Linked DNA regions of Homo sapiens. The protein of the gene in region 3 interacts with the protein of the main gene of each other region in a pairwise test. Each region holds a gene or a part of one and is shown on either strand. Other genes may lie near its edges.

What was found.
Region 1: the proteins of KRT75 (region 3) and SUFU interact in binary tests that used the Homo sapiens proteins (3 or more experiments, as listed by UniProt).
Region 2: the proteins of KRT75 (region 3) and LCA5L interact in binary tests that used the Homo sapiens proteins (3 or more experiments, as listed by UniProt).
Region 4: the proteins of KRT75 (region 3) and LMO2 interact in binary tests that used the Homo sapiens proteins (3 or more experiments, as listed by UniProt).

Annotation. Positions count from the first base shown.
Region 1 is NC_000010.11:102,625,949-102,632,974, reverse strand, and holds part of SUFU (suppressor of fused homolog), read right to left. Parts: intron 5,801-7,026; coding exon 5,732-5,800; intron 2,910-5,731; coding exon 2,820-2,909; 3' UTR 1-2,819. UniProt on the Homo sapiens protein: Negative regulator in the hedgehog/smoothened signaling pathway. Down-regulates GLI1-mediated transactivation of target genes. Down-regulates GLI2-mediated transactivation of target genes. Part of a corepressor complex that acts on DNA-bound GLI1.
Region 2 is NC_000021.9:39,421,765-39,428,790, forward strand, and holds part of LCA5L (lebercilin-like protein), read right to left. Parts: intron 6,765-7,026; exon of another isoform or gene 6,740-6,764; 5' UTR 6,730-6,739; coding exon 6,408-6,729; intron 6,142-6,407; coding exon of another isoform or gene 5,995-6,141; intron 4,271-5,994; exon of another isoform or gene 3,996-4,270; intron 1,727-3,995; coding exon 1,212-1,726; coding exon of another isoform or gene 1,182-1,211; exon of another isoform or gene 1-1,181.
Region 3 is NC_000012.12:52,424,362-52,431,387, reverse strand, and holds part of KRT75 (keratin, type II cytoskeletal 75), read left to right. Parts: intron 1-682; coding exon 683-847; intron 848-2,644; coding exon 2,645-2,770; intron 2,771-2,911; coding exon 2,912-3,132; intron 3,133-4,536; coding exon 4,537-4,571; intron 4,572-6,632; coding exon 6,633-6,871; 3' UTR 6,872-7,026.
Region 4 is NC_000011.10:33,868,074-33,875,099, forward strand, and holds part of LMO2 (rhombotin-2), read right to left. Parts: intron 1,915-7,026; 5' UTR 1,644-1,914; coding exon 1,637-1,643; exon of another isoform or gene 1,514-1,636; coding exon 1,273-1,513; intron 1-1,272. UniProt on the Homo sapiens protein: Acts with TAL1/SCL to regulate red blood cell development. Also acts with LDB1 to maintain erythroid precursors in an immature state.

The DNA.
Region 1 (7,026 bases), on a different chromosome or scaffold from region 3:
CTGCCCTTGGAAGAGAAAGATACGGGCAGGAAGAGGCACCAGCTCCCCACACAGGCCTGAGACCTCGCACAAGCCTCCCAAACCCCCCTCAGAATTGCAGCTGAGTCTGCAGTCCTCCTGCAGCCCACACTGAGCCAGCAGAGCCACAGGAGCCTGCCTTATATAGCAGGCAAAGAGGAAAGGGAAAGGCCCTTCTCAGAAGCTCTAGCACCAGGGACCTGGAGGGGTGGGTACAACTAGGCAAGTCTCCAAGTAGCTTGCAGAAGAGGCAGATTTAGGGAGGGAGGCCCCTTACCTCCTCCACCCACTACAAGGTCAGGGGCTCCCTCAGAGCTGCAGGGAGGGAAAGAAAGGGTACATTCACCAAGCATCCTGTGCCAGAAGCTGTGCTGGACAGGGTCCAAGGTCAGCTTGGCTTGATCTTCTTTAAGGGTCCTCTCTCACCAGCCAGCAGCCCAAGAAACCTCTGGGAGGCACCAATGCCCATAGGAAAGGAGGCCTGGTGAGAAATGTGTGATACCCTGTCCTGCCCTCAGAGCCAGTGAGATGGAGCCTGGCCCCTGCAGGATCTTGGGTGAGCGTGAGGCTCCTGACATATTGCAGGTACGAAGGGGCCACAGGCTTCATGTGCTCATCATCTCGGAGCTCACCCACTTCCTCCTGCCTTACCCTGCTCCCCCAGAACAGGGCCACCATGCTGGCTGGTGTCTACCTTCAGTCCACAAAGACCCTCCAGGTCTGGGGCAGGTTGCTGACCAGGTGCTTCACAAACTAATGACAAAGCTTAGCTCAGAAAATGCCCCATCCCCACCCAACCAACGATGGAGGCACCCAGCAGATGGAAGTACGGCGAACTGCAGCAGGGAGCCCTCAGGCAGGTCCCGAGCAAGAGAGAGTTCAGGGAGAGGCTGGTCATGGTGGCAAGGAATGGAGGCGAACTGATGGCACCTCTCTGCCTGTGAAATGTCAGAAACAAGAGCTTCACAGGCAGGGCTGCTGTGGTGGGGGAAGGCCAGTAGGGCTCCCTCTGGTAAGTCCTCAGGGCAGTAGAGGCACAGCTGCCGACATCAGGTCCCGAGTGGCTTGCATCTTGGCTGGCGGGGATCTGCAGCCAGTCTCTCCCAAATACTCCAGGCTGATATGCCTTTTAACTCTGAGCTTGATGGAATTAACCAGATAGCCCTGGGGATGTGTAGAGGAGGCCAGGCCTAGTGGCTCCATGGAGGTCCAACTCCTGCTCCCTGGAGAACCCAGCTGGTGCCCTCATACCCCTGGGGGCAGCTCTTTGGCTGGATCTCTCATCAGTGGAGTCCTGCACCCTGTGGGCACTCCTGTGGCATCCCTGCTGGTGCCTGTGTGTGCAGCAGAGGCAGATGGGAGCAATGAGGAGCCCTGCATTGTCATGACTTTGCTTTGAAGAGGTGTAAAGAGTGATCTTGAAGTATTGTAACAGTCCCATCCCTAGAGTTGGGGGTAAGAAGGCAGGAAAGGGGCTTGCTGGTTCCAGGTCAGGCGTGGGAGATAACCCGAGAGGAACTCCAAAACCATGGGCTAGAGATAGGCTGGCTTCTGGAAGGCAAACTGTGAGATCTGCAGTACTGGGGGTGAGGGGCTGAGGACCACGAGAGGCCAGGATGCCAGAAAGGAGAGGGATTAGGAGTGGAGAATGAAAGATAGGGCATGAATGGATACAGGGAGGATGGGAGGGCAGCAGAGAGCAGTGTTAGCAAAACCAAAGTGAAAGAGATGTTAAGAGGTGGATTTTTCAATTTTAGTAAGGCAGCCCTACAGCCTGAAGGCTGGGAGGCCCAGGGACTGAGGAAATGGGACAGGACTGGTTACAGAGCTGGAGACCCAGGCCCTGAATGACAGTGGGGATGGTGTGTGATGTGCTGAACCTCACCCTCTCCCAGGTAGGCCTGGTTGGGTGGAAAAGGCCTAGAAGATGAGGCTGGGGTCACCAAGTCTTTGAGACCCATTCACTTGGAAAACAGTAGCACCCCTCCCTGGCCCCAGCTAAACTAGGCTCAAAGCTGCACAAGGGAGTGTCTCTACTCTCCCCCTGCCCCGGGCTCCACCAGGCCCAGCTGGGAAGAAAAGCCTCTCTGTGCAGCCGGCTCCTCCAGGGCTCTGGGCTGGCAGGCGAACACCAAGCACCTTCTCTGGTGGCAGCCCAGGGAGAGATACAGCCCTAGGCCTCTGTCAGAGAATGCGAAAGTTCAACGGGGAATGAAGTTCTGTTTAAAAAACATTATATACATGGCTTCTGGACATCTTTGCAGAGCAATAAAATACCACCCGGTTTCTACAAAATAAAATAAGGAAGAAGAAAACCAAACATGATCAGAGGAATTGTTCCGCGGCCAGAGGAGCTTGAGTAGCAAAGGCTTCCAGAGATGAGCTGGGAAGTGCATCCACTCGCTCTGCATCTGGCTGTCCGCCTCCCTCCTGCTGGGCTGTGCGGCAGGGGGTAGGTGAGAAAGAGGGCTGTCTCCACCTAGGGGCACAGCCAGGGTCCAGAGTCAAACCTCAAACCAGAATCTGTGCAGGCTGCAGGCAGGGAGGGTCCGCATTTGCCCACTCACTGGCCTGATGGGTCACAAGGCTTAGCCAGCGGCGGGGTGCGGCCCCTGAGCTGGAGGTGAGGTGGAGGGCCTGTGGCCTGTGCATGGCACCCCACTGGGCTGCGGGGTGGCACTGCGCAGTCTTCCTCACACTTGTCCTTTTATTTGTGGAGATCTCGTTGACACAACTGTTACACTGGAAGTCACTGGGGAGCAGCTGGGCTCCCTGCTGGCCACTGCAGGGCCCAGCCCAGGCTAGTGTAGCGGACTGTCGAACACCACGTCAGGCAGGATGGAGACCTTCAGCTTCTTTTCAGGCCAGCTGTACTCTTTGGGAAGTTTGAACTGTGGAGGGAGCAAGCACAGACCAGGAGTGTGAGTGGTTAGCAGAATACACCGTGGTCTTTCCAGAGATTGCCCAGGCCTGTCCCCGGGGAGCTAGGGATAGGACAGGCCGCGGGAGGCGTGGCTTCATTCTCAAATGCTAGACCCAGGTGGCAGGCTGGGCTCAAACGGCTGGAGTTGGTGACCCCTTCTTTCCCCACGGCCTGTCAATAATGAGGCAGGTTGGAGGAGGGCGTTTTCTCCTCCTTTCTCCACTAAGCTGACCTCCCTCTTGCTCACTTCCTTGGTTCTGCCTCTGGCCACAGGCATGTAAAGAATCTGCTCCCTGAGGCCCTGGGGCTGGAGGATGGGGGCTGGGGGAGGGTCTGGAGGCTATGGGGAAGTGGCCTGAGCTCTGTCACTGCCATGGCCTCTCTTTCAGAGGCTAGTGCAGGAAGAACCCTGGAACCTGTCCTCTGTATACTTGGCCAAAGGCTCCAAAGGGAAGGAGGCCCCAGTTCGGCCCCAAAGTCAGAACCACACTTGCGGCCTTGGTGGGAGCAGAAGAGTGGGACAAGTGTGGTTTGAGGTGATCCCTTGGGCCTGAGAGGGGCCAATCCCCACCCTGCTCCCTGTATTCATTCGCACCACTTCCCAGGGTTACCAGCCTCAGAGTGGTCCCAGTGGTGGCCAAGGAGAGCCAAATGTCTCCCACCCCATCCCAGGATACACTGATTTGCCTACAGTTCTGTTTCTCCCATTCACCTGGGAGTTTCTGGTAGGGGAAGGGGAAGAGGCTGATGCCTCTTATTCCCTCTTTACTGTAGAACTTTGCATGCAGTCTGGCACACAGATGGAGCTCAATAAATGCTCACTGCCTGGGACTGATACCGGAACTTAGACACAGGGTCTGTCTTTTCTTTTTCTTTTGAGACGGAGTTTCGCTCTTGTTGCCCAGGCTGGAGTGCAATGGCGCGATCTCGGCTCACTGCAACTTTTGCTTCCCGGGTTCAAGCGATTCTCGTGCCTCAGCCTCCCGAGTAGCTGAGATTACAGGCATGCACCACCAAGCCCGGCTAATTATTGTATTATTAGTAGAGATGGGTTTTCTCCATGTTGGTCAGGCTGGTCTCAAATTCCCGACCTCAGGTGATCCACCTGCCTCGGCCTCCCAAAGTGCTGGGATTACAGACATGAGTCACTGCGCCCGGCCCAGGGTCTGTCTTTTCTAATTTGGCTAGGCCGGAAGTCAGGGCAGGGTGGAAAGGAGAGAACAGTGTTCTCAGCCTGCCTCGGTCTGGGGCTGGAGGCAGACGAGCCTGACCCTTCCTGGCTGCCTCCCTCTTCGCTCCCTCTGCTGGGGGACTGTCTCTGCCAGGACCAAAGTGGCGAGTGAGGCAGGGTGTAGGGACAGCCTCTGGACAGAAAAGGAAAAAAAGAAAAAAGTCATTTTTAGTGACCTACTTTCCTCTGCTCCCCCAGGCTTCTGTCCCTCTTGCCTGGACTGTCCCCCTCCTACCCCCAAGCTCAAAGCAGCAGCCTGGCACAGCGCCATCCCAGTGCGACAAGGCCTCTCCGGAAGCGCTTCTGGGCAGCTGGCTCTGGTCTGACTGAATGGGGAGCTGGGACTCAGGGACCAGTGACTTGTGGGGGTTGATTGGCTGGCATGGACTGGGTGCTTGATGGCTTTGGAATATATAAATGAACAAATTTCTCAAGCTGCATCCCAGAGGACAGAGGAGACCCTGCTCTATTGAGGTGACCCTGGCTCTGGGGAGTTCCTGTCCAACTGGAGACCTGGACTGGACGGTCCCGCCCTGTGCACTCCCCTCAGCTTCCTAAACACCAGAGGCCTGTGTCCTGGCTGTTGCAGCCCAGGGAGCCCTGGAAGCTGGAAGCTCCAGCCCTGGCTGGAACCTAGCTCCCGCCTGGCCTCCCTCTTGGTAGAAAGCCTGGCCCCTGGGAGGCGAAGGAGTTCTCCCCCAAGCACATTTCCTGGCAGACAGGACAAGGGAAGGGTCTGCCTCTGCCACAGGCAGGGCAGGGCCCAGGAGAGCTCTCCAGAGGCCCGGCCAGCCTGCTAGAGTTCACTAACCCATGGGGCACTGGGGCCAGGAAAGCTCCCATCCCACTGGGGTGCTGCGGGCAGGAGCGGGGGAGGGGAAGGGATTTTCCAGGATGAGGTAAGCCCTCGCAAATAAGGATGCCGGGAACAAGGGAGAAAAAACAAAGGGGATTATGGACTCCATTCCTCTACCCCAGAGGAGCAGCTAAAGAAGGCACAGCCACAGCTGGCCTGCCAGCTCCTCCAGCTCTGAGCCAGGGCTGGAAGAGGGAGACTAAGAGGCACAGCTCATGGCTGGAGGACGAAGAAGGGAGAGTGGCTCCTGGGTGGCCCGAGGCGAGAGCAGGAGTCCCTTGCTGCCCACCAGAACTCCCCAGCGGAATGTTCTCTGGCAACAGACATGGGCGTTCTGTTCAGAATCTGCCAGGGAACAGCAGGGGCTGGGGAGAACTCGTACTAGCCTGAAGGCCCTGGCTTCCTCTTCAATGAGGCTCTCAGGAGCTGGCAATTCAGACGATTTGCTGGGTGTCCTTACAAGGGCTGGGGGTAGGGCAGGGGATGGTGAGGGTGCATAGAAACAGAAGAGAAATCTACAGTCTCCTCTCCAGCCTATCCCTGCACCTTGGGGAGGAGCCCACAGATGCAGCCACACAGATACATGCAAGCACACACGCACCACAGGTACACACGCACACATGCATGCACAGACGTGCACACGCACGCACACACATGGTCCCAGAGACGGGACCTGTTGTCAGGAAAAGTCAAACAAGCTTACTTCCTCTGGAGAAGTCAAATCTTCTAAATCCTCCAACATTTTCTCTACAAACTCTTCGGTCAACAGAATCTGTGAAGGCACAAGGCAGGCTTTTATTATTATTTTTAAATGTATGATCTTTTTGCCAACCACCAAGCGTTATACCTCTCTTCTGACCATGGAGGAGAGATGAGCTCACTGTGATCTGTTCAAGGGACACAGGGAAGTGTTTGAGGCCTGTCCCCAGCTGTCATTCCCCCCACACCCTCACCTCCCTGCAATATCAGACTGAGGCATAGAAGGAAAGGGGTCAGGGGACAATGGGGAGGGGAGGGAGGACACTGGGAGAGCTGGGAATGCTGCTCCCAGAAGGGAGATGAACACTGGTGGGGCCGGTAAAAAGGAATCTCAGGAAGAAAAAGGAACAGAAAAGAAAAATTAAAAGGAAAAAAAATTAAATTAAAGCTGCTGCCCAGTCAGGCTCTAGTGTCCCCCTCTGCCCCTCACCGTAGAAGGACAAAAGGAAACTGTTTGGATTTGGAATACAAGCCCTATCTGGAATCTGGAAGTGCCCTGGAAGGTACATCCAAGAATGTCTGAGCTGGAGAATCTGGAGATTGTGGACCAACGTCTCATTTTACAGATGACAAAGGGACTCCCAACTTCCATTCCCATTCACAGTAGCCACATCCTCCCAGGCTGGAAGCTCCCAAGCCCCTGACCTGCTGTGCTCGATCAGCCACTGAGTTCCTCCAGCCTTCTTTGAGGTTCCTCTTCTCTAGGTCACCTCCCAGCATTCCACGTTGCTGTTCTAGTCTGACACCTCATTGCCTCTCGCTTTGATGCTGAGTCTGGCCCCACTATTTGGCTGGCACAAACACCAACTTCATCCGCTAAAGAAGTTTTCACAGCCAATACCAACGTCCAAGGGCTCTCAGGCCCTCTAAAACCGGCCTTCCTCAATCTGCTGGGCCATTCTTCCCCACCCACCCCTCTCGTCAGGCTGCTAGGCAGAGCCAGGCCAAGCTGATCCCAGGTCTGCACCCCACCACGCCCTGGGTGAGGGTGTCTTTCCTCTTCCAACTGTGACCCCTTCCTTCACCCCTCCCCCTCCCTGTCCTTGTCCCCAGGGCCTCCCAGCCTCCCTCCACTGCAGACCCTTCTGTACCCCCAGGCCACAGCTCTACCTGTCTTCTCCCGTACACCTTGAGCACCCAGGTAGGGCACAAAGGAAGAAAGATAATGGGGTGAAGATCCAGGTGAGGGGCTCCTCTGAGGGGAAACCCTCCCTGTGAGGAGGAGAATTGAGAACTTGA
Region 2 (7,026 bases), on a different chromosome or scaffold from region 3:
CTAAAACATTAATGTTAAAGAAATAACATGTTTTGGTCCACAAAACAGTTTTCCTCCACTAAATGCCTACAACCAAACAGAAATTTCTCATACTTGGTAAGTGCTTTTTGTATCAAAGAAAATAGTTATGGAATTTGTTTTGGTTTTATGTATAGATATAAAAACATGAACAACTTAGATACATACATGAAAACAGATTTGCTTTTACATGACAGACATACGCTAAGATGAATACAATATTACCTAAAAGGCCCAATAATATCACTTTGGTATACAAGAGTGAAAATTGAGGTTGCTCATTATTTTCTGTAGATCACATATTAATTTCATGTGAAAAAAATTTATTGGAAAATAGGGAATTTTAACAACAGAAGAAATAACTGAGATTAAAACGTGGAGGAAACGAACCTGATATTTACTTACTTCAAGATCATAGAAAATACTCGTGTTTCAGCATCAAATATTACAGAATTAAATCCTAAATTAATTCCATTTATGTTTATGTCTATACAGACTCAAACTAGCTAATGTAAGATATGCAGGAGAATTCTTAATATGATATCAATGCCTTCTCCCAAGTCATCCCTTATAATGTAATCCCCAGGCTTTTGACAACCAAGTGCTGTTGAGGAAAATCAATCCAGTCATCTCTTTAATTATTTTAATTCCTTTTCCTTCCCTACTACCCAGGAACATTATCTGGGAAAAGCTGCTATTTTGAAAATAACTACAAATGTCTGTGTGGTAATTCCTGGCCAAAATGGTGAGGGAGAATACAAAGGCCCTGAACGGATGCACTGAGTAGGTTTTTAGGGAAGTAGCCTTTTAATCAACAGTTTAAGGTAGAGGGTTGACTTCAAAGAGAGGTTTCACGTAACACAATGCAATCTTTTCAGCACAGGGAAAAAGTCCCTTAGCACTGTAGCTGTGCTCTCTTAGAGAATGGTCATTTCCAGATAAACCAGTCCAGCCACAGAGTGAACTCTTGTGCACTGCAACAGATGAACATTTCTAGTTTGAGCTGCTTCTGTTTTTCCTTCAAACCACTCCCTTTCTGTGCCCTCTATTAGACAACATAATTATTTAGTGCAGCACGCCAAGTGAAGCAGTTAGTAATGCTTTGTTACAGAGGGGGCGCATCCATGATTAATTCACACCCTCTCTCTATTAACTTTGGAATCTTAAACTGTCTGGGCCCCTGAAATACAGACCTGTATTTTTTTGTCATTTGCGTCCATTTTTGTTGTGATAATAGATAATTTATGAGTGAGTTCTTCCCTTTCTGCAAGGTTTTTGTCTTCAGAAAGTTTCTGCAGTGCCTGCAAGATATCTTTAGTCTTCAGTAACTGGCTGTCAGTTTCTCTAAGTTTCCTAGATAGAGTTCTTTCCTTTTCCTGGGATTTCCTAAGTAGTTGCCTTAAATTTTTTACTTCATTCTGATGTTTAGCCATAATTTGAGGTAGATTATTTTGTGAATTCTCATATTTTCCTATAGCTTTCAAATGCCTAAGCTGAAGTTGTTTCAAAAATTGGTTTTCTGTAAGGATGGCTTCCAATTTATGATGCATATCAGCTAATTCATTTTTTAGTCCTTTAATTTTATGAAGCCTTGCTGAGAGTATTCGATGAGCCATAGCATCTCTTCTTTGGGCAATCATATGGATTTGAGAATTAAAGAGTGATGCATTCCAGGTGTGCTTTTTTTCAACTGATATTTCCTTCTGGCCTGTGTAAGCAGAAAATCCAGTTTATTACTAGTAAAATATACAGATATGCAAATATGCACATATGCATAATCTCTCTCCCATGCCCCCATGCACACACACCACACACATACACACAAGCGTAAGTGTAACTAGAAGGGGACAAAACTATCATTTAATGAATACCCATGCTTTAGGCTAGGTACTTTATATATAACTACCTCATTTAATACAATTCTTTAAGATCAGTTGTAATATATTTTATAGCTGGAGATTTTACATCATTTGTCCAAGATTACATAGCCACGAAGTGACACAGAATGGATTGAAAACCAGGTCTTCTTTGACTCTAAAATCTGTACTTAGATTTCTATTATAACAGCTAGACTAAAAGCTGTGATAATAGGCCAGGTGCAGTGGCTCATGTCTGTAATCTCTACACTTTGGGAGGCTGCAGTGGGAGGACTGCTTGAGGACAAGAGTTTGAGACCAGCCTGATCAACAGAGTTAAGATCCCATCTCTAAAAAACAATTTTTTTAAATGTTTATTTTTATTTTTTTTTGAGATGGAGTCTCCCTCCATTGCCCAGGCTGGAGTGTAGTGGTGCAACCTTGGCTCACTGCAACCTCTGCATCCCGGGTTCAAGCGATTCTCCTGCCTCAGCCTCCCGAGTAGCTGGGATTACACGTGTCTGCCACTATGCCCTGCTAATTTTTGTATTTTTAGTAGAGACGGAGTTTCACCATGTTGGCCAGGCTGGTCTCAAACTCCTGACCCTCAAGTGATCCACCCTCCTTGGCCTCCCAAAGTGCTGGGATTACAGGTGGGAGCCATTGTGCCCGGCCTCTACAAAATTTTGAAAAGTAGCCTAACATGGTGGCACATGCCTATAGTCCTAGCTCCTCAGGAAGCCTTGGCGGGAGGATCCCTTGAGCCCAGGAGTTTGAGGCTGCAGTGAGCTATGATTGCACCACTGCATTCCAGCCTGGGTGACAAAGTGAGACCCTGTCTCAAAAACAAACAAACCAACCCCATGACAATAGCTGAAATTTACTAAGTGCTTATCATATGTCAGGCATTAAACTAAATGCTTTCTGTAGATTATCTGATGTAATCCTTTCAACAATATGTTATGGGTAATTAGAGTATAACATGAGAATCCAATGTAAAGAACTTATATATTCAAAATGACCCTCAAAAGGTCATCAAATTGCATAAGAGTCTATCTGTTTATACAGATACCGATTTTCCATCTCTCAATAAATCCAACACAGTTAATTTTTCCTGTTACTTTGGCTGGGCACCAAATGAAGTAATTGGCATGTGTCCAGGGGTCTATCTTAAACAAAAAGTCTCTAAAAATTATCAGTTAGCACCAAACTTACCTAATTGAATTTGAGTATGTTAAATACATTTGTAAATCACTGTACTATTATCCCATTTTAAAGATAAACACATGGAAGCTTGGGGATGTCCCTTGTCAATGAGCACACAGCTAGGAAGTGGTGAGACAGAGCCCATTGTCTATGTGCCTATGCTAGTGCCCCACAGGTGTGTGCATTTGTAGGATATAGAGGTATATGTATGTGTGCACCTGTGTATGTAAATGTATATGTGGTGTGCAAGTGTATGTATTCATATATCTAGATTCGGAGAAGGAGAAATTGAAACTGGATTCTAAACTCTAAAAATGTCTGATCCTCATTCTGGAGAGGGAAGGACACTTAGTGGCCAGTGTCACCCAAGTCCTAACCTTAAACTACTGGTCCAAGTGTGGACACATCTGAGATGTGGCTTAATATGTCTGCTCCAGGTGGTGGGAAAGGCAATTCTACCTGTGATAGAAACAATGAACCAAGAGAGCCAAAGCATGCTTTCTGGGGATAAAACATTTGAATCATAACTATGAAAGAACTCATAGATTATACAACACAGTATAACATCAATAACTGGTGGCCTGTCTTTGCAATTATACCTTCAAGTGTATTTATTTTCCCATGGTTTAGTAGGGGCTATGGCTGAATATTAAGTATTTTAGAATAGGCTTCTGAGCACAGTAAGTGGAAAGCAGAGCAGGCCAGCCTCTAGGACATCTACTAGAAGGCCTGCGAAGAGGTGTCTGTGGTTTTGTTGAGGCCGTACACTTTAATACTCTGGGCACTGGCTAGGGAAGCTCTAGACCCAGGCCGTATGGATCAGGCTGGTTTAAAACAGGGGTGGGCGAGGACTGACATGTTCTACACTATGGCCAGCATGACTGAACCTGACCCCCAACTTGTAATGTCTTCCAGCTCTTAGGTGCTCTGACCCTGGAGGAGAGGGATTTCACTGAGATGAGAAGGATGCGTGATGGGATCCATGGGCACTGGAGGCTTATATTTCCCTCTCATGCCATGCTCAAGTGATGGGAGGGCAGAGGCATGAGAGGGTGCTAAGGGACTAAACGCCATGGCCACAGGAGCTCTGGCCAAGGCCCCAGGAGTCAAGAAGTGCACAGAGGGCATGGATGCGTTGGAAAGGGGAGGTGCTGGCCTTTTAAAGATCATATGGCTTGGACAAGGAACATGTAAGTGGTAAAAATGAAGGGCAGAGGCTTCTCCCCCAGTATTCTTCTTTGTGTGAGGCCCTTTCCATGTCCCTGCCCCCTCATATTCCCTTATTCCCCAAACGTGTCTGAGATTGACTTTCCTGTCTACCCTAGTGAGTGGGTGGGGAGGACAAGCCAGGTTTGTTGGCTTCAGAAAGGTAAGTACACCACTTGCATTTGAGGGGTATGTAACAAATTCATACTGTATCCATCACGCATACTTGATGGAGGAATATATACTCCAAGAGTAATCAGCTTTAAAAAGCTAAATTATAAGGTACTTAGAATTCGAAATGCAATTTCTCTCTTGTAGAAAGTTTTATAAATGCCAACTGCCCTCTTGCATGATCCCACAAAAGCTTACCATCAATATAAAATGTAGTATATAGATTCAAGATCTCTTATTGTAAACCCTTGGAACCAGACTGTTTCAGAATTTGGGGGTGGGTTTTAAAGGTGAGTGCATATATGGTATTTTCCACAGTTCTCTCATTGGGGTCTGGAACAACACCCTTTAATGAAACTATATTTTTGCAGTGAAATTATAATCACTATTCACACTAAGTGAAATAACTAAAGATCTGCTTCATATTAGTTCAAATAAGGTTTTTGTTGCCAAATCAACTTTGATGCCAAGGATATGAAAGATGTTGGGTTTTTGGAGATTTGTAAATTTCAAATGTGGATAAGGAATTGTGTGTTTGTAGGATCTAACCATGATGTTCATTTTTGATGGAGTCCAGGCATGAGAGAAGTACTGGACTTTTCATTTCCTGCCCTGGGCCTTGCCAGTGGAGGTAGGACCCCCAGCTCTCTAGAAAAGTAACATTTAACCTTTTGAGACTCTGATGAAAGGTACAGGGCCGTCTAGAAAAGTTTACAAACACACATAGACACAAAAAAATGCATAGAATTTCATGGGGTTCACAGACATGTGTCTTAGATAAAGAATCCCTGTGCTATAGCAGGGGAACTGAAGATTCTGGGTGTTCCAGAAGTGGCACAGAGGGTCCTGGACACAGCTGGTAACAGCAGACTGGGGATGCAAGATGCAAGGTGGACATGGCGGTGGCAGATGCACTCCCCAAACAGCAGGCCCTTTATTGTCCTCCTGTTGACTGAAGTGCTCTGATGGTCAACATGGACAAGAGCCCCAGCTGTTTCTATATAAGGAATACTTATGAGCTCAAGATTGCCTCAAATGGGAGGAAGGAATTACAGTCTGGGCAGGGAAGGAGGAAGAAAGGAGATCAAAGATAACACAAGCTAATTCCAATTTGGACAGCTGGGAGTTGATAGAGCTGGTACTTTAAAAATCTACAAAGAGCCGGGCGCGGTGGCTCACGCCTGTAATCCCAGCACTTTGGGAGGCCGAGGCAGGCGGATCACGAGGTCAGGAGATCGAGACCATCCTGGCTAACACGGTGAAACCCTGTCTCTACTAAAAATACAAAAAATTAGCCGGGCGTGGTGGTGGGTGCCTGTAGTCCCAGCTACTCAGGAGGCTGAGGCAGGAGAATGGCGTGAACCCGGGAGGCAGAGCTTGCAGTGAGCCGAGATGGCGCCACTGCACTCCAGCCTGGGTAACCAGAGCAAGACTCTGTCTCAAAAAAAAAAAAAAAAAATCTACAAAGAAATGACATTATTAACAGCCTTTTGAACCATCTCTGTTTCAAAAGATGGTGTTTGCCAATATGTCTCACCAGACTTGGAGACCATCCTCTTGGGGTGCTGAGATAGGTATTTACATTTCACTGGCAATTCAAACACTGATTCTTCAGCTGAGATGAAAGGCAAGAAGCCAGTGAAATCCAAATATTGTGGTACTCTGTAACAAGGCCACCTGTTAACTAAAAACAGAACTAACCTCACTAGTAGGCTCCAGTAGGGTAAGCCATGCAGGGGGCTAGGCTTTACATGTGAAGCCTTTCTGTTATTTTATAATTACTCTTAATTTCTCTATTTCCTAATTTATTCTATAAAAGTTCACCTATAATACACATTTACAATATGGGAAAACAATAAAACTGAGTATGAACCACTTCAAACACTAGTGCAGTAAAATAACATCATTATGACAGAAATTTGGTCTTGCTTGGGAAATTTTACTCCTTACCTTTAGATTGGGAGATTTTAGAAACATTATACTTTTTCTTCTCCTTTTCTTTTACCACAGGCTGCTTTAAATAATTTCTATTAATAGCCTTTTCTGAACAATCACAGAGAAAGTCTTCTGAATAATCATACTGAGAACTTAAACTTCCACAGGAGCACTGAGATCTGCTATAATCAACACTCTTATTGGAAGCATTACTGTTCCGTGAAAAATCGCCTGTGCCTGGGCTTCTCTTGCATGCTGCAGACCTCCTATTGTTTTCTAATGCCACGCCGAAGAAATGCTCATCTATATTTGTTTTTGTTAGATCAGCCAAAGACATAGCAAACAACCTAATAAAAGAAAAGTAAAACCTAATAAAAGTATTTTTGAATTTATTGACATTAAAATGAACCTATGCTTTATTTTATATATATATATATATATATTTTTTTTTTTTTTTTTTTTTTTTTTTTTTTAAAGACAGGGTGTCACTCTGTTGCCTAGGTTGGAGTGCAGTGGTGTGGCCATGGCTTTCTGCAGCCTTGACCTCCTGGGCTCAAGCGATCCTCTCAGCTCAGCCTCTGGAGTAGCTGGGACTACGAGTGTGTGCCGTCACACCTGGCTAACTTATTATTTT
Region 3 (7,026 bases):
ACTTGGAGCCTTGTCATACTAAACTACCCCAGCTCTGATGCTTCTCCCCCGAACTCCCTTATCCCATGGCAGGACAACATCTAACAAGGAGAGAGTACTGATTCCCAAATTCTAGGACACTGGGTAATTTCCCAAGGAATCAACACATACCTGCTCCCTTCCCCTTCCCTGAAAAGTATTAAAAAAAAAAAAAGGCAAGCTGTCCCTCAGCTCATTGGTCAGGGGGCTTCCTACCCTTTGAAGATGCCTCATTCTGGGCGCTACCCCTCCAAAGGCAGAGACCTGGGTCTGTGGAAAGGGAGAGAGAGGTAGAAAGTGATGGAGTCACACTGTGCAGGGGGAAGCAGTGTCCCAGATGTCCCCAATGCTCTTAAAGAAGCCGTTTATGTTGGCATACTGAACAGACACGTGTCACATTCAAATCTATGTAATTCCAATTCAGAGGATGCTTACCCACCCTCATGCCTGGGGAAAGCACACAGATGGGAGCCTTGAGAAGTAAGGCTGGGAAAGATTTTCACCACACTGATCTTTTGGGATGAATGGGAATACCTAGGGAATAGCTGGGAGAATCTGCCAGGAATACCAAGGAAAGGATTCCTGACCTAGATGGGTAGTTAACCACGAAGATTTAAGATTCTTCATCTTATGCCTTGGTGATGCTGAGTTTACTGCCCTGCAGGAGCTGTCCCAGTTGCAGACCCAGGTCGGTGACACATCCGTGGTGCTGTCCATGGACAACAACCGCAACCTGGACCTGGATAGTATCATCGCCGAGGTCAAAGCACAATACGAGGACATTGCCAACCGCAGCCGGGCCGAGGCTGAGTCCTGGTACCAGACCAAGGTGAGCATGGACACCTCCATGAGAGGTTCCAGGGTTAGTGTTCTCTGAGGCTCCACATTATCACTTAACTCAGCCTCAGGAAACGTGTGAGCACATTCGTTTATTTCAACTTAGCAGGCATGTCTTTGATGCTATGACAACTTAGCTTGAAATGCATGTGGAAACCGAACCAGACACACTAATACATGGTCAGCCCAATGCTGGGAGCTCAGGACATCCACTGGCCCCACATTCCTCAAGATCTGGGTGGGAGCAGGGTGAGACACCAGGACAACCGAGACACAGTCATGAAGCAGTTTCTAAAAGGCTTATTTATTCTCTATATATTTTCTGAGCTCCTGCTGTATGCCAATCAGGGTTACAGGGTTGCAAATAAATAAACTGCAAACAGAGAACCCAAGCTCTGGGAGGCCATGAAGTGAATGGACAATCATGGAAGGGAAAAGATAGCATGAATAAAAAGCTTCCAGGAAGACATGGGGGCTTTGTACAGTTGGGAAGCCATGAGGGACAAAAGATTGCTGAGGAGTGGGGAGAGGTTTAAGGCTGAACAAGGAGCTGGCAGGCAAGAACAAGCAAGGGAGTTTATGTCAGGAAGAGGAAGGCTGGGATAAACACAAACAGCTACTGCCCAGAGCTCAGACAGCCGCAAAGAAGTTTGGCTTTGCGGGGTACAATTGACCCATGATACCAGCTCCCTGTCAAATCCAGACCCCTCTTGGGGCAGCTTCTCACCTACGAGCAGGTTCCAACTCTTTCCCTGCTCCATACGTTGCCTCATCCCTTCTGGTCAGGAGTGTGGTGGAAAGGAAGGTGGGTAGCAGGGACCAGGGTTCCACAGGGCAGAGGCAGCGCCTTGACGGTGAAAGGAAACATGATGCACTTAACCCCAAGGTGAAGTGGTTGAAATCGATAGCAAACGATTCCTCATGTTGTTGGGTTGTTGCTCCATTTAATCATGTATACCTAGAAGCGGGAACCTGAGCTATTCAGCACTTTCAAGAACCCCACAGATCTTGACTCTGGCAGGGGATCTCCTTTTGTCAGGGAAAGGTGTAGGTTTCACTTCAGTCTGCTGGAGGAGACAGGGTGTAATTATTGCTCTTAAATTCACATGTCCTGGATATGCACCATTAGATTGAGAACTACCTGAGATTGGGAATACTTTTACAAAGTCTTCAAAATTGTGCCTTCCACAGCCTCTGCACCATCCCACACCATTCCCCCATATCTCCTCCCTGTTTCCCCAGCACTGGTGTTTGGAGGGCTACCAAAATTCATGGGCACAGTTGGTCTGGATGCACGCTCTGTGACCAGGAACTACCCAGGGACCTTGATCAAATCACCGTCTCACTCCTAGAACTCACCATGTTCCTTCCCTGACCCAGAGTCTTCATGCAGGCTGTTTCCTTTGTCTGGAATGTTCTCCCCCACAACTGGTCACTTAGGTCCCTCCTTCTCATCCTTCAGACCACAGTTCAAGCATCTCCATCTCTGGAGAGACTTCTCTGACCACCACTTCCCACTTCCAAATCTAGGTCAGATTCCTTCATTACACTCTCCCAGGACCCTGTTCATTTCCTAAGGGCACTTATCTTAGTGTGGAACTATACATTTGATAATATGCTAATTCAGTTAATGTCTATGTCCCCCAATAAACTGTAAGCTTCAGGGGGAATGAGTGAATGACCAGGAATGAATGAGCCTGCTTGTGGCACCCAGGGTGGGTCTGTGTGCACAGCGAGTGCCTGGGCCAGGCATTTGACTCAGTGACTGGGTTTGCTCTGGTTCTCTCAGTACGAGGAGCTGCAGGTCACCGCAGGCAGACATGGGGATGACCTTCGAAACACCAAACAAGAGATCTCTGAAATGAACCGCATGATCCAGAGGCTGAGAGCTGAGATTGACAGCGTCAAGAAGCAGGTAAAGATTTGGCAGGGCCAAGAGCTCCTCAAATGCTCATTTCTTCTGGGCCTTTCTGCCATCTTTAAGAACTCCTCCCCAAGAAGCACCACACCTCCATGGGCTGTCAGCAGGACTCATGGCTTCCTCCTGTCCTTACAGTGTTCCAGCTTGCAAACGGCCATTGCTGATGCAGAGCAGCGGGGAGAACTGGCTCTCAAGGATGCACGGGCCAAGCTGGTGGACCTTGAGGAGGCCCTGCAGAAGGCCAAGCAGGACATGGCTCGGCTCCTGCGTGAGTACCAGGAGCTGATGAACATCAAGCTGGCCCTGGACGTGGAGATCGCCACCTACCGCAAGCTGCTGGAAGGCGAGGAGTGCAGGTGAGGCAGATGCACCAACTTCATCCTCAAAGCAAGTTGAGCTCACCTCAGCTTCCTGGGCATTCCTAGGGGCTCGGGCTGTTGCAGCCCCTTCTTCTCCTGGAAGAAAATGCAGTTCAGAATTGGGCTATGGCAAAAAAATAATTTTAATTTCCTTCCAGGCTAGTAAATCATTTGAGGTGCAACTACAGTTAGCATCCCCATAGAAACCTAAAACCTGATCAGGTCTAAGTAACTGAATTCTACCAAAGGAGACATTTGGTTACATGGCAGCTCTCGAAATGTGGTCTAAAAGGCCATGGGCTGAGAACAAACAGTCCTAGGATTTGGGCTTACAGATCTAACACTAAGTAGCTACATAACCTTGGGAAAGTCAGTCTCCCTTCTCTGGCCCTCAATTTCTTCAATGATAAAATGAAAAGGTCAGATTACATGATCCGCAAAGCTTCATGGGAGCTTTGTGCTCTGCCAGTTAGGAGCTGTGTAGCCAAGAGCAGATACTTAACCTCTCCACCTCTCAGTGTTCTCATCCAATAAAATGTGAATAACAATAGTTCTAAACTCTCACATTATTAAAAGGGTTAAAATAAGGGAATACACACAAAGCTCTTAGAACAATGCATGGTACACAGCGTGTTCGATAAATGTTAGCTATCATTCAGTTTCATGGCCAAAGACATAGGCTTTGGTGTCAGATGAATCTGTCTTCAAGTCCAGCTTTGCGACTATGGGCAAGTTAGTTAACTTGTCTGAGCTTCCATTTCTCCCTCTATAAAAGTGAGCAAATAATACCTACCTCATGGGGTTGTTGAGAGAACTAAGTGGTGTGATATAAGTAACAGGTAATCAACAGCTGTTACCTCTTGTTAAGTTTCTCAGTATGTGTTTATGAATGAATGCCAGTTCTGTCCTGAAGATGCTAAAGCAAAGTTACTTGGTTGCTAAGATAATAATAAACTGATATTACTATTGTTATTTTTATGACTCAGACGCCTCTCCACACCTATATACAATAAGCTCAGCCCTGGCTCAGTGCATGACAATGGTCCCTTGTTGAGAGACAAATCTTATTATAGGACAGGCCCTTCTTTCCAGTTGATGCCAGTATATGATTACTTTTAATTTCCTTAAGGCATCTAACTAGTTTAAACCAAAAATTGTATTTCTGAGATTATAGATTTTGCTCCTGTGAACCTCAAACTCCACCTTATTTTATTCATTAGATTATTAATATTATCTTTAATACTACTAGTTCTCAAATAATTTCAACCTGCATTACTTCTGCAATAAAAATAATAAAGTATGTTTAAATGCTTTGTCAACAATTACAAAAGTGTCATTGCAAAGGCCCTTAAGCTGCTGGCCACATTGGTAACCTTCCTTCTCCCTGCTCTTCCCAATCAGGTTGAGTGGAGAGGGAGTTTCTCCAGTTAACATTTGTGAGTATGACATACTTCTTGGGCCATTTGGAGTGTGTGTGGTAGAGGGGATGGGGATGTGGTGGGCTTGCCAGAGGGTGAAGATATGACGGGTTAGACGGGATCTCACAGACAGCGTTCATTTGGAGAAGGTTTGAGGTTTTGGGTCCCTTAAAAAGCAAGCCATATTAGGAGTCTTTAATGTCACAGTTCTTTCCTCTTTGAGAGTGAGGGTGTCACAGAAGGGGTGATGAGAGGTTTGATGTCATTGTTCTGAGTGGGTTTAAAAGATCCTGGCCACATCTCCTACCTCCCAGAATTCCCTGCCTTTTTGTTGGGGCTGCAAGCCTAGCACAGAGGTGAGCACTTGATGTAGACGGGATTTATGAAAATTCCTGGTCTGGCTTGGACCTTTGAAGGGAGCCTTCATGCTGTGGACAAGAGCATTGCCAACTAGGCAGCTTCTCTCCTAAACAGTTTGAGAAGAAGCTCCACTGCTTGGCTCAACTCTGCCGAGTATAACTGCAGAAGGATGCCAAGGGTTTTCAAGGCAGTAAGGGCAGCATAAAATATGGCAGTTGGCTACAGTAGCTCTAAAACAGGAGAGGTATTAACAAGCTGGCATGGCCCTGTGCTGGTGAGAGAAGAAGTGGTCATTCGCAGAGCTCAGTGCTGGCATCACAAGGGCAACAGAAATGACTCTTACAACTCACCCTCTACAAGTGAGTTTGAGTTTGGTTTTCTTGATGGGCATTCATAAGGGCAATTCATTATATTAGCCAATGATTCTAGAAGGCAGAGCCCTCTGAACCACCCAGGTGTCCTTCCTCCCTGATGTCTTTGTCTAGTGGTGCCAGAGACCCTCAAAGCTAATTTTGGGGACAGGCCTTCAAGCATAACCTTGAAGCTCCTTTTCTCTTGAAAACACCTAATTGTCTGTATTAGTTTTCCAGGGCTGTTGCAAAAAGTACCACCAGTCAGGTGGTTTAAAGCAACAGAAATGTCTTGTCTCACAGTTCCGGAGGCTGAAATTAAGGGTTAGCAGGGCCCTGGTCCCTCTGAAACTTGGAGCCTGGACCAGCCTCCTGCTCTGTATATCATGCAGGGTGGCACTATCCCCTCTCCAAACCAGATAGTGTTCTGGAACACGGAGGCAGCATGGGCAGCCCAGCCCCCCTCCAGCCTCCTCCTAGCTCTGGCGGTGGCCATCCATCCTCGGTGTTCCTTGGCTTGTGGCTGCATCCCTCCACTCTCTGTTTCTGTGATTGTATGACCGTGTCCCTGTGTGTCTGTGGCTTCAGATGAATGTCTTCCTTCTTTCTGTATGGACACCAGTCATGTTAGATCAGGGCCCACCCTACAGACTTTATCTTAACTTGGTTATACCTGCAACGATCCCATTTCCAAATAAGGTTGCATTCACGGATACTGGTGTTAACACTTCACCATAGGTTTTTGAAGGACACAATTCATCCTATAACGGAGTCTATTTTTTTAAAATTTGATTTTCCTTCGGCAGGACCCAAAGTAGGGTGCTAGAATGTGTAAGGGGATGAGTTATAAATTAGGAGAAGAATAGGTTGGGAGGAGAACGGGGGCAGAGTTCACTGGCCAACAGGTTAATCTGTCACTTGATCCATCAAGAATATTCCAGCCTCCACCCTGGGATTCTGAGTGTGGGGCTGGGAGACGCTGAGGGAAGAGGAGTGTGCCCCTCCCCCCATAAGCATCCAGAAGGAAGAGAAACTCTGGAGTCAGGCTCAGACAGGGAGACAGACCCAGACGGCACAGCAGGAGGATCAAAGGGAAAGCAGGTGGACTGGAGCTGCTTCCAGGAGGAGAGGGCTCCAGTAGGTTCTGGAAGGGGAGGAGGAAGCCATTCCAGCCTAAGAGGCTGCCTGGAGCTGCAGCTCAGGAACACAGGCAGTGATCTCACTAAGCAGGGGACATTGGAAGGAGGCAAACTGCTGGCTGACGAGACCACCCCCTCCCCACCCAAGGACTCCAGGGCACAGGCCCTCACACTCCCAGCTGTCTTCTCGCTTGCACTTGATCTGACCACACCTCCTCTCTTCCCGGCAGCTGTGGTCACCTCTACTCTTTCCAGTGGCTATGGAAGCGGCAGCAGCATTGGAGGTGGAAACCTGGGCCTCGGTGGGGGCAGCGGCTACTCCTTCACCACCAGTGGTGGGCATAGCCTGGGTGCAGGCCTGGGAGGTTCTGGATTCAGTGCCACCAGCAACCGGGGCTTAGGGGGCAGTGGTTCTAGCGTCAAGTTTGTCTCCACCACATCCTCCAGCCAGAAGAGCTACACGCACTAAGAGAGCCCCATGGCTCCCTCTACCCTGCCTTGAGGCCTGTTTGCAGTCACACCTGGACACCAGGGTCCTCCTCCTTCCTCTCTCCTTGTAAGGTGCACCTGTGCTGCTGGGAGCCTGGAGTACTGGCTATACCCATTCCCAGGCCTAAGCCAGCC
Region 4 (7,026 bases), on a different chromosome or scaffold from region 3:
TAACAAACCTAGCTCATTACAGAACTGGTGTCTTAACCTTCAAGACTGAATAGTGATGTTTATATTCTCATTGGATGGTGGTACTTCCTGTGTTTTATGAGAATATGTTGAGCTTTTATGCTGGTAACTGAGGGTAAAACCCAGGTAAATAAACACCATAGAAAGCCGAAATTGAAGGGTGTATGTGTGTGTGTGCGGTATTTCAAGCAGGAAAGCACAATTCTTTTAAAGCAGGAAAAGAAAAAACAAAACAAATGTCTCTTAAAAGCACAAATGGACAAGTCATTAACCAGCTCCTTTGGTCTTGTGTAACAAATCCCTTCAAAGGATTAGAGGGGGACTTCAAAGGAATAAAAATTCTCAAAACCAGACAGCTAATGACTCTTAAAAGGGCATTTGCGTTGACAGGAAAATGATATCTTAAACACCCCTTACTCCCCATGTTAACGCTGAAGAATGGGTGAGGGATAGAAAAACATTCCAAACCAGTACGCGGCTCAGAAAACAGATGCGGCCAATGCTCATTAGAGCTCTGGTTCCCTGACCCCAAACCCTTTTAAGACTCTGCTAAAAACTACGAGACTCTACTCCCCAGAATAATTCACCTATACACAAAATGGTGCATTAACTTTCGAGGTTCACATGTCCCCATCGGTGGACCCCGAGGAGGGGTACACCTACTCAGATTTACTCCGGATTTCGCTGCTCTAGAAATCCCTGGAGGCCCAGAGCCAGCTCCGAGGTGGACGGTCGGACCCCTCACCCGCCCGTTATCCGCAAGGCTGGCAGCGGCTCCACCTGCGGACCGGGAAGGCGGCCGTTGGGGACCCCGGAGGCCGCCACTTGGAATGTTCCCCTTTCCAAGACCAAATGGACAAAGAGAAAGGACCGAGAAGGAGAGGGAAGAAGGGAGCAGAGTCAAGCCCAGAACGCTCTCCGGACTGCACCTGCGCGCCTCCAGGCTCTCCTCGTGCCTGCTCCCGTGCAAACTTTCTGGCCCGTGGTGGCTTTGGGGAGCGTCCCAGTAGCCTGGAGTGGCCCGCAGAGGCGCCGGGCCGACCCCTGTCCCTGCCGCCCGCCGCCCAGTCCCTCTCCCAGAGCCCCCGGAATCACCCGGGAGGAAGGAGGAGCCCAGCGCTCGGCACAGGGGGCCAAGGGCACGCCGCGAGCGCGCACCTGGAGCCCCCTCGCGGGCCGCCCGGGTCCCCCCGACGCTCCGGGACGCGAGGCCGTGGACACCGGGGGTGGCAGGGGCAGGGGGGCCGCACTTACTCTGAAGGGTCCAGGCTCTTCCTTTCGATGGCCGAGGACATTGGGGAGGGAGGCGGGGTGCCGGGCGGCGGGGGCGCTCCCTTTGTGGCGCGGGGCTGGCCGGCTGCCGGGGCTCGGACCCCCTCGGGTGCTCGGGCGCCGCCGCCGCCGCCGCCGTCGCCGCCGCTCCTGCGCCTCCGCTTGCTCCGGCGCTCCGCCGGCGAGCTCGCCCCTCCGCGCTCAAGGACAGTCACCGCGCTCCCTTCAAACGCCAAAGAGAGAGAGCGAATCACCGGGCTGCGGGCGCGCCGCGGCCGAGGCGGGGGCCGGGGCGCGCAGCCTGGCTCCAGGCGGCTGCAGCTGCTGCTGCTGCTCAGGACTTAACCTTCCATCCCGGTCCCGCCGCCGCCACCGCCCGGTCCCTCTCGCGCGCTGTCGCCGGCTCCGCGCCGCCCGCGGGGATGGTGTGCGCCCGCCCGGCCGCCCGGAGCCCCTCGCACCTTCGGCCCGGGTCGCGGCGCGCTGCTCGCCGCCGAGGGCAGAGAGGGGGCGGCGGCCTAGGGGCGGGGAGGGGACCGTGCGTCTCTCTCCGGGCTTCCTCCTCTCTCGGGAAGGTCTATTTTCGCTCAGCTTCCCTCTGTCTCTGGTTTCATTTCCTTTTTCCTGATCACGATTCAAATACAATAGAAGGAAATCACATTTAAAGAGACAGCTGCCCGGTCCCCCCACCTCCCCTTTTTTCTTCCTTTTTTTTTTTTTTTTTTTAAACGGGGCTCCTGGGGATTAGCAATACAAACAGCAGCATCAGGACTGACTTGGCTTCTTAAAGGGGCCAGTGTCGGGGACGGGGAGAGCCGCTCAGCGAACACCTCTCCTTGGAAAGGAGGCTGGGCAACCACTAAATCATTCTTCAGGGCTTCCCCTCTTCCGCCTTTCCCTTTTGGTTTAACTAAGGCAGAAAGTAACCCACGAACAGCTCGAGCAAGCAAGAAAAGACAAGAATGTGAAATAAGCACCTACAGAAATGCAAGTGTTCCCAGTGGATTTTCCGCCCGTCCCAGGTTCGAGGTCCCAGGTCCACGGACGCCGTGCACTGGGATGCCCCGGACAGCGCGGCTCTGCGGGCTGCGGGCTACGGGCTGCGGGCCCCAGGCTGCGGGCTCCGGGCTGCGGGCTCCGGGCTGCGGCCGCGCTCTGCAGAGGCGATGGTGGTGCGCCAGCCGGGACTGCACGGGCTGGGGACGCCTAGAGCAGAGCCAGGGCAGCTAATCCCAGAGGGAGGGTGGCTGGGAGGGACCACGCGGGGCCGGGGCTCCTCTCAGTCGGCTGGTGGCGGAATCCCCTCCCTCTGCACCTTTCAGAAAGCGGACTCCTGCGGTTAAACTGCCCCCCATGTAAAGTGCCAGTAGTATCCCGACCAGAGAAAGTGCTTTTTCAATGGTCAAGAACAGGATCAGAGAGATTATTTTGCCCTGGGTCAGGCACAGAGAAAGAAGGCGGACTTGATTTGGGGGTTCAGGCTTCCCCCTCTCAGCCTCCTTCTAGAAAGAGGCAGGAACGCAGAGGGGAAGCGGGGGAGGCTAGTAGTTTGCCCTTCCGTGGAGAAAAACTTAGGCTCTCCTGGGCCTCAGAGTTCCTTGAAAATATCTGCGTTCAGAAGCTGAAAGGCCTATTTGTGCGTGATGCCAGTCATTAAGGCTTGTAAAGAGGGAACGTACTTTCAGGATCCATGGTTTTATATGATCAGTCTGGATCATAGGCATACATTTCTGTTCCCATTTTAAGGATAACCAGAGTTTACTACTGCCTGCATGCTCTTGTCATTTTCTGGTCCCTGTGTCCCAAGGCTTGGGTCCCTAATGGGTATAATCAAAAGCTGTGTGTGTGTGTGTGTGTGTGTGTGTGTGTGTGTGTGTGTCCCAAAGGAAGCCTTAAGAGCAAATTTTTGTCCTAGTGGAGACTTCAGTATACAAAAAGACTTTTTCGGCTGTGCTCGGTGGCTCATGCTTGTGATCCCAGCACTTTGGGAGACCCAGGCTAGCCTGAGCAACACAGTGAGACCCCGTTTCTACAAAAAATAAAAAATAAAAATAATTAGCTGGGCGTGGTGGTGCTTGCCTGAAATCCTAGCTACTCGGGAGGCGGAGGTGGGAGGATTGCTTGAGCCCAGGAGGTTGAGGCTGCAGTGAGCCATGATCGCACCATTGCCCCCCAGTCTGGGGAACAGAGTGAGACCCTGTCTCAAAAAAAAAAAAAAAAAAAAAAGTTGGGTTTTTTTTTTTCCGATAGACCCTTGTTTTTAATTTAAAAAAGAAAATACTTAGAATTTAGGCAAGCCTAAACTATGTGATAAATATGTAACCTACCACACTACTTTCATTTCTAACAGAAATGAAAATAAATATATAGGTTGTGATGAACAGTTTACCTACTTATAACCAGTCAATGTGGTGGTTAAACGCTGGAATTTTGGAACCCAACTGCCTGGGTTTGATTTAGACTCTTACTTATCAGTTAGCATGTCCTAGGAAAATTATTTAATCTGAGGAGGCAGTATGCGGTAGTAGCTCTGGAGTCAGACTACCTGGATTCTAACCCATCCTTGACCAGCTGTGTCAACCTGGGCTCACAGCAGGAATTTAAACTCCCAGTATCCTGGCCGGGCTCGGTGGCCCACACCTGTAATCCCAGCACTTTGAGAGGCCGAGGCGATCCCAGCACTTTGAGAGGCCGAGGCGGGTGGATCACTTGAGGTCAGGAGTTCATGACCAGCCTGCCCAACATGGTGAAACCCCATCTCTACTAAAAATACAAAAATTAGCCAGGTGTGGTGGCACATGCCTGTAACCCCAGCTACTCGGGAGGCTGAGGCAGGAGAATCACTTGAACCCAGGAGGCAGAGGTTGCAGTGAGCAGAGATCGCGCCATTGCACTCCAGCCTGGGTGACAGAGTGAGACTCCGTCTCAAAATAAATAAACAAACAAACAAATAAACTCCCAGTATCCTCATCTGTAAAATGGAGACGACAGAACCTATTGCCTAAGTTATTGTGGGGATTATATGAGTTAGTGCACAAAAGGGTGGCACATAGATTTGTAATGGCATGGGGGTAATAACAGATATGAAGTTGCTTGCATGAAAAGCAACTGGTATATAGTAAGCACTCATAAATGGCAGCTGCTATGTTATAGTAAAGGGCATCATTAAGATAATTTTAAAAGAGCTTGAAATTAAATTTAAAGGTGAAATGGGGGTTTAAAATAAGAATTGCCCACCCAAATTTGGAAACTATTTCCTGTTTTTTAAAAGCAGGAAACAGGATTCCTTCACCTCACCCCCTTCTTCTCCTAAATAAAACATGTAAGTGTTTTCCATTTTAACGTTCATTATCGTGGTGACTAAATGACCTGTTTGCATCTGCTTGGGTGTTATTTGTTTGTTTGTTTGTTTTTTGAGATGGAGTCTCGCTCTGATACCCAGGCTGGAGTGCAATGGTGCGATCTCAGCTCACTGCAACCTCTGCCTCCTGGGTTCAAGCGATTTTCCCTGCCTCAGCCTCCCGAGTAGCTGGGATTACAGGCGCTCGCCACCACGCCTAGCTAATTTTTTGTATTTTTAGTAGAGACGGGGTTTCACCATGTTGGCCAGGCTGGTCTGAAACTCCTGACCTCAGGCGGTCCATCTGCCTCAGCCTCCCACAGTGCTGGGATTGCAGGCATGAGCCACCGCGCCTGGCCACATCTGCTTGTTTTTATTTAATCTGATAAATTATTACTTTCCTTGTCACAGTTTTGCATGGGGCTCAAGTCAGTTTTTAAATTAAATATATCCTTGGGTTCCAAGAGGTAACCTCAGAACAGCCAAATTCAGGGCATAACGTTTCTTTTTAATAATATGCTTCTACTTTGACCTGAGTGTGTAAAGAAAAAGAGATTACTGCATATGACTTTGGGTCAGTTTCTTATCTTTCACAACTCTTTGGGGAGAACTTCCTTAGAGAAGGTGAATATTTGAAATGGTATCTTAAGATTTCAATTTCACACACAGTGGTTGTAAGAAATAACTGCCTACCGGTGGGATTTCATTCCTATTCAACGGGCAATTAAATTGCTCAAATTTAAGTTTAACATTTAGAATCAAGTCTCAAAATGTGTTTTTATTATGAATAATTTTAAAGCAATCATGACCTTATTGTATCCTCCCTTAACAACTAGTACATGCCTTATGCAGAAGAGAGACTCAGGAACTATGAGGTGATTGGGACATGTAAAACGGTTCTTTTAAAAGTTGAGAAAATCTCTATTTGATCCCTGCCAGTGGGACTGAAATTTCATTCCTTTTCCCTTTCCCCCAATTCCTTGCAAATCTTAAATATCCTAAAATCTAGAAAATGTTCAAGTTTTCCTTCCTGAATAAGAATGCTAGAAGAAGAATGAATCAATCTACACGATGGCTCTGACCCCAGATGGATCATTTTTTTCCCCTGTGGGCATTTTCTATCCTTTTTGCTTATTACATTTACAATTGTTTTCTAAGGGAACAGCAGTTTCAAGTGACTAAGGTTACATTCCTTTGCTAAAATGGACTTCTGATAGAAATGAAAATGCAAATATAATTGAGAAGATCCCAACATTATGATAATTTACCTCTCTTTTTTTTTCAACCATTAGAAGCCAAGTTGCAACATATGCTTTGTCACTTGTGACATTCATATACAAAAATATGACATTTTGTTTCTAAATGTGGCATTCAGGAACAAAAATAAAGACCTGTCTTAATAGGGTTTCGGCTCCCATGGAGAATTTTTTTAAACTATTCGGTTGTCACAGGCATCCTGTGCTCAGACTCATTTCAGAACATTTCAGGGCCAGCTGACAGATAAGTTTTCACAGATGTAAGGCCTATTAGTAACCTTAGTGATAAACAGATTCGGTTTTCTATATAGTAAAGAGCCCAAAATACATCTTTTAAAAAATCCATTTCAACCGAGCCTTAGGATGAGCATAGAAGCTCAGCTGTTTGCTAGCTGCGTGATCTGGGGGAATTTACTTCACTTCTCTGAACCTCAGTTTCTGTACCTATCAAATGGAGGATGGAGGCAATCATAATGTCACCAGGGCCAGAACTAGGATGAGGCCACTGGGGTGCCTGCTTGCCTCACAGGAGTTTTGAGAGGAGTCAATAGGATATGTATAAAAATACTTTGCACAGTGATGCTGCACAGTAAATGGTCAGAAACGATAGCTGTTGGTATTACCCCATCTTTCAGAAGTAATCACCACTGTATCAGGAAGCAACAATCTCCCAGCCAATCAGGACATCCACCAAAGAGTGCTGAGACTGGGGTGCTGTAGAAAGAGCTGAAGTTCACCTAAGACCTCGGCAAGCCTCAGGCCAGAAATGCAGGGCTGTGCCCATTTCGGGGCCTGGGTAGGCTGCTGACAGCTTCTCTGCTTCTCTGCTACACTGCTACACTGACTGCTTCAGCCACATCCCTGATTTCATCTGATTTTCCCCTCCAACAACTTTCAAACCACCATTTATAATTTAAAAAAGAAGCCAAACAAAGCACTGAAGGAGCCGCCCCCAAATGTCACCATTCCTCAGTGAGTTCTTAGCAGTGTTAAGCTCATAGTGTGTCCTAGTGGAAGGGGCCTGAGAAGTGGGATTTTCTAGCTTGCTCCTTGGAGCAGTAGGAGTTTGAAAGCACCTCCCTAGTGGGTGTCACCCACCCCTGCTCCCACTGCAGCAGTTCTGCATTCATTGACCTTGGG